Linked DNA regions of Homo sapiens: region 1 is linked to region 2. Evidence: fine-mapped expression QTL. A gene starts in region 2. The other region holds a variant in brackets. All regions are shown on one strand. Distances are from middle to middle. Region 1 overlaps CLEC12A (C-type lectin domain family 12 member A). Region 2 holds the start of CLEC1B (C-type lectin domain family 1 member B).

Region 1 (2,929 bases), 22 kb after region 2:
AGCAAAAACAGAATTTATAATAGAGAATGGAGAAAACCAGTCAACCTAGATATAGTGTATTTTGTTTGTACAAATTTGGGAAAAGTGAGTAGCTGGAAATTAACAGAGAAGCCAATAGGAGAAGTCTTTGCTTGAGTAGACAATTGTGGCATGTCAAGAAAAACAGTTTCAGTTGTTTATGTATCCCCCCAGGCAATTATGAGAATTTAGCTGCAGAATGAACAAGATAGGCTGTCTTTTCATAATGTCTTTGGGTGTCCTCCCGTTAGCTTTTGATCTTAATCAGTCCAGATCTACACCATTTTTATTGCAATTTTTCAAAAAAATTTTCATGTGTTTTTGCAAGAAACTTTTATTGAATACTTCCTTTTTAATGAATAGTGAAGCCCAGAATAGATCATTTCTCTATTTAAAAAAAAAACAGGAATTATAAACTTTGTGAGTGAATTATTATTGTGACTATGTTATTTAAATCATCATTATGTATAAAGCTATTATACATTAGGTAAAGACTAGCTAGATATTTCAAGAAAATCCAATTCAGGGATACCATAATAATCTCACTATACTTCTGAGCTATGTCTTACATCTCATAGTTGATGGTGCAATAATATTGTGAAATCCAGAGACAATTACTAATAAATAGTAAAACTTAACTTATATAGACTTTAGAAAATAGTTACTACTGAAAGAACTACATGTTCAAGATTTTATCTAAGATTAGAATTATAAATGCCAGTGCTATCTTTCTTAAAATTATTTTCTTATTTATATGTGTATTCAATTATTCAAGTTTATTTATTCAATGAACTTATTCAATTATTAAAAAGTTCAATTATTCAAAAGTTATCTTTTGAGTGCCTTGTATTTATTAGACATTATCCTGGGTGCTAACAATATCAAAGTGAGCAAGATGTACAAGTTCCTGTTTTCACAGCTATAAATTTTAATTGTAGGAGGAAATAGATAAATAGATATATAAGTGAGACAGGGAGAAAGAAAGAAAGGGAGAAAAGATCTCAAATTTGGCGATGTTGTGCAGAGATTTAAAACTAAGCTGTTATAGAGAGCAGGCAGTTCAAATCTTATGAATAGGAACCAGCATGCAAAATAAGTAGGAAGAACATTACAGGTAGCAATTACATGAAGTTCAAAGACAATAATTTAAGGAAAAGATTTCTATTTGAAAAACAGAATATATTCAGAGGGGCAGAAGAATTGTGGCCAATGTGAAAAATGATGTTAAAGGTTTTATTTGTTTTCTTTTGTTTTGTTTTTAAAATAACAAGGAGGAGACATTATTTACAGCCTTTTCTAGCCAGAATAAGTTAGATTTTTGGGGAAACCACTGGAAGAATTTAATCTAGGAGGGCAAAATAACAGAGTTGTTTTATCAGTAAGAAATCTGTTACAGTATGACATGTGAAAGAGAACAGAAGTTTGACTAGCTAGTACTAGGGAATTTGATGACCCATGGATAAATTAAGTATACATTTCTAAGCTAAAATCTATTGCAAAAATTTCTGAAATTTTTCTTTAGAGAAAGTTGGTAGATATGCACATTTGTAGGCAGTATCTCATAGTGATAAAAAGCAAAACACCAT[C/T]TTTAGGGTTAGCATGTGTATTAGTCCATTTTCACATTGCTAATAAGACATACCCAAGACTGGGCAATTTATAAGGAAAGAGAGGTTTAATGGATTCACAGTTTCACGCGGCTGGGGAGGCCTCACAATCATGGTGGAAGGTGAAAGGCACACCTCATATGGCAGCAGACAAGAGAAGAAAGAACTTGTGCAGGGAAACTCCCCTTTATAAAACCATCAGATCTCATGACACTTATTCACTATCACAGGAACAGCACGAGAAACACCCCTACCATATGATTCAATTACCTCCCACGAGGTCCCTCCAACAACACGTGGAAATTGTGGGAGCTATAATTCAAGATGAGATTTGGGTGTGGACACAGCCAAACCATATCATTCCACCCTGACCTCTCCCAAATCTCATGTCTCACATTTCAAAACCAATCATGCCTTCCCAACAGTCCCCAAAAGACTTAACTCATTTCATCATTAACTCAAAAGTCCACAGTCCATCTGAGACAAGGCAAGTCCCTTCCACCTATGAGCCAGTAAATTCAAAAGAAAGTTAGTTACTTCCTAGATACAATGAGAGTACAGGCATTGGATAAATACGGTCATTCCAAATGGGAGAAATTGGCCAAAACAAAGGGGCTACAGGCCCCATGCAAGTCCAAAGGGCACCAAATCTTAAAGCTCCAAAATCATCTCCTTTGGCTCTATATCTCACATCCAGGTCATGCTGATGCAAGAGGTAGGCTCCCATGTCTTTGGGCAGCTCTGCTCCTGTGGCTTTGCAAGGTACAGTCTCCCTCATGGCTGCTTTCATGGGCTGATATTGAGTGTCTGCAGCTTTTCCAAGTGGACAGTGCATGCTGTCAGTGGATCTACCATTCTGAGAGCTGGAGGACGGTGGTCCACTTCTCACTGCTCCACTGGACAGTACCCCAGTGGGGACTCTGTGTGGAGCTTCTGACCTCACATTTCCCTTCTGCACTGTCCTAGCAGAGGTTATCCATGAGCACCCCATGCCTGCAGCAAACTTCTGCCTGGACATCCAGGCATTTCCATACATCCTCTGAAATCTAGACAGAGGTTCCCAAAACCCAACTCTTGACTTCTGTGCACTCAAAGGCTCAACACCACATGGAAGCTACCAAGGCTTGGGGTTTGCACCCTCTCCGAAGCCATGACCTGAGCTGTACCTTAGCCTCTTTTAGTCATGGCTGGAGCAGCTGGGATGCAGGGCACCAAGTTCCTAGACTGCACACAGCAGAGGGACCCTGGGCTCAGTCCATAATACCATTTATTCCTCCTAGGCCTCTGGGCATGTGATGGGAGGGGCT
Region 2 (2,929 bases):
TTAATGTTTTTTAAAAATTTTTAGTCTTTTCTTAAAATTTGGCATTTATTTCAAATGTGTTTTTTTTTAATTAAGAATTAGTTTTGGTAAAAATATTTGAATCATACTAAGTTTGGCTTTCCAAAATCAGGGAATGTCTTTTATACGTGTTATGCTTATTCTTCACCTCATTCTCAAAATAATTTGAAGAGTATAGAGAAAGAAATTTAGAATGAAAGATAATTTTAAGTGAATTGACAAGAAATTCAGAGTGAAGGAGATAGCAGGGGAGAAAAAATCTACGGGCTATGCCAAAGGGCATGTTAATAAACAAAATATCTGCTACTGCAGCCCACATAATCACTATATTGAAAAGTCTAACACTCTGCTAAGTAAAGAAAAATAGAATTCAAATTATTTATAAGGTAAATGCCTACTACTTAAAGCTTTGCTAGTCATGGTGATTTAACAAAAATAAAAATCTGCCATAAAACTATGTAAGAGTTACCCTATGGCAAAATAGACAACATCCTCCCCAATATTCCTATAATAAATGCATCAGCTAGCTTTGTATGGCTGTTCTTACAACTACTTTCAGTGCAAGCTAAAATAATGTAAAAGCCCATTTCATAAAGTTAAGTGTGTGCAATACATATTATATTGTGATGAAAAGGTGCTAGGAACCATTCAGTCTCAAATATTCATCTAAGCACAGCTGTACTTGAAATGAAGTGATTTCATCAAATCAAAATTCTTCCATTCCAGGAAACTCACTTTAAAGCACAAACACTACTAAAGAACAATGCAGCAAGTCACCAACTCTGTATTATTTTACTTGATTTGATAGTTTTCCTTCAATACCTAAATCTAAGCAATATCAGGCCTGCCTCATGTGGATCCTTCAAATAAAAAAAAGTATGAAATATGCAAGAAGTTGTGTAAATTCTAGGTCATAATCAGGAATGATCTCTTCCAACACAAGACTATGAAACAGCTAATTTAGCCCCTATCAGATCCAATTATATTACACTTGCTTCTCACAATGAGATAAACTATATATCTGCTGGTGAGCTATATCCATGAATTTTCAGCAGAAATCTCTCATTTGAGCAATGTAATTTAGACTAAGCTAGGGCTAAGATAAAGCATGAACTTTTGTTCTTAGAAAGGATGCACATGATGGAATGTCCCTTTATTTAGTGTTGAAGATAAAAAAAAAGCAGGAAGCAAATACCTTATCTACTCCTTTACCACAAGTTATTATTATTTTTGTGTTTTTGTGTTCAAGGTCCATGTATCTCTGAGCAGCTATGAAGAAGCTTCCTGGAAAACAATAAGCAAAGGAAAACAAATGTGTCCCATCTCACATGGTTCTACCCTACTAAAGACAGGAAGATCATAAACTGACAGATACTGAAATTGTAAAGTTGGAAACTACATTTTGCAAAGTCATTGAACTCTGAGCTCAGTTGCAGTACTCGGGAAGCCATGCAGGATGAAGATGGATACATCACCTTAAATATTAAAACTCGGAAACCAGCTCTCATCTCCGGTAAGAATGCTCAGAGCCAATAATTTGGAAATTAATTTAAAAAATGAGTTGATTCAATTCTTTCTTTTTCTACTATTGATAATATATATAGTTTAATTTCTTTTTCTTGAATGATGTTAATGCTCTAAAGCATTTGAGTAGTGTTTTCATAAGCTCATACAGACCTATTTAGATTACAAACATCCAATATATGTGCAGGGAAAATTGCATTAAGATTCTGAGCGTTTAATACTCGAGGGCATAGAAGTCAAGGGGATAACGGAAAAGAGTGGAAATTTCATTTTCTATATGTGAGCAAATGAGTGTGATTCTTCATTTGCTGTTTATTAAAGCAATTATTTATGGCATGGGTGAGCATAAAACAAAACAAAACAAAACAAAACAAAACAAAAAATACAAACACATCAGGCCTTAACAGCAAGTAATATTTCAGCTTGGAGAGGTAAAGTGCATTGGAGATGAGAATGGATGTATGGTATAGGGGTGGGCCATGCCTATTGTTGATGATCATGAGGAGAACACAGGTGAGATCTGCCAGCAAAGCTCTTTCTATTACTTGGAGGACCCTGAGAAGGCAGGGGCAGGGGCAGGGGTGAGCCTTCCCCATAGCTAACCCATACTGCCTGCTCCTTGATGTCTTTATTATATGCCTACAGTTGGCTCTGCATCCTCCTCCTGGTGGCGTGTGATGGCTTTGATTCTGCTGATCCTGTGCGTGGGGATGGTTGTCGGGCTGGTGGCTCTGGGGATTTGGTGTAAGTGTTGACTCTGCCAGAAATTTGACTGGAGGAAGGTAATACTGAAGGGTCATGGCATATCCCACTAAGCTTCTCAATGGTCGCTATTTGTCTGTTTATCACTTCTACAGTTGTCCTACAGATAGTTGCCAAGAGAATCTCAATAAAGGAGAACACTGACTGTTTCCTTGTGATTAAAATAAGATTTTAAGATTTTAACTAATGAAAAGTTATTTTTAAGAATGTACTACTGGCCTTTAAGACCCTCCTCAGTGTGGATCCAAACTATTTTTAAAAACTTTTTCATCCCTTTTCCTATCTTGCATTCCTAAGAACCAGCCAAACTGGAGTTTTTCAATTTCATATATAAATTCCATGTTCCCTTGTCTGAAATTTTTCTCATTCTATTCTCTCTACCTAAAATTTTCTGTTTCTCATTTTGTTTACTAAGTTACTGTGCATTTCTTCTTTCTGTAATTCTCATGGCCCTCCAATAGCACATTGAAGTCTGTGTAGTTGTTGCTTGTTTGTGTATTTGTTGATTTTTTTAAAAGATGTTAGAATCTAACATTTATCCTCTTGTATTTCTTTATTATTTACCTGAATATCACAAGTACTTTAAGCATAACAAGAAATCAGTATGTATTTTTAAATGAATGAA

What was found. PIP is the estimated chance that this variant, and not a neighbour inherited with it, causes the effect.
Region 1: its variant is the best candidate, but not a certain one, in a credible set for the expression of CLEC1B in whole blood (INTERVAL, PIP 0.68).

Annotation. Positions count from the first base shown.
Region 1 is chr12:9,975,771-9,978,699 of GRCh38, reverse strand. The region is part of intron 1 of CLEC12A (C-type lectin domain family 12 member A); the gene reads right to left. Among named protein-coding and RNA genes, the nearest start is that of CLEC12A, 5.8 kb to the right of the region's middle. The variant C/T (reference allele first, on the strand shown) is at 1,605.
Region 2 is chr12:9,997,639-10,000,567 of GRCh38, reverse strand. CLEC1B (C-type lectin domain family 1 member B) reads left to right here and starts at 1,447. Exons shown (of 6, transcript NM_016509.4): 1 at 1,447-1,531; 2 at 2,188-2,286. The coding sequence starts at 1,468. It also overlaps a transcript of CLEC12A not described here.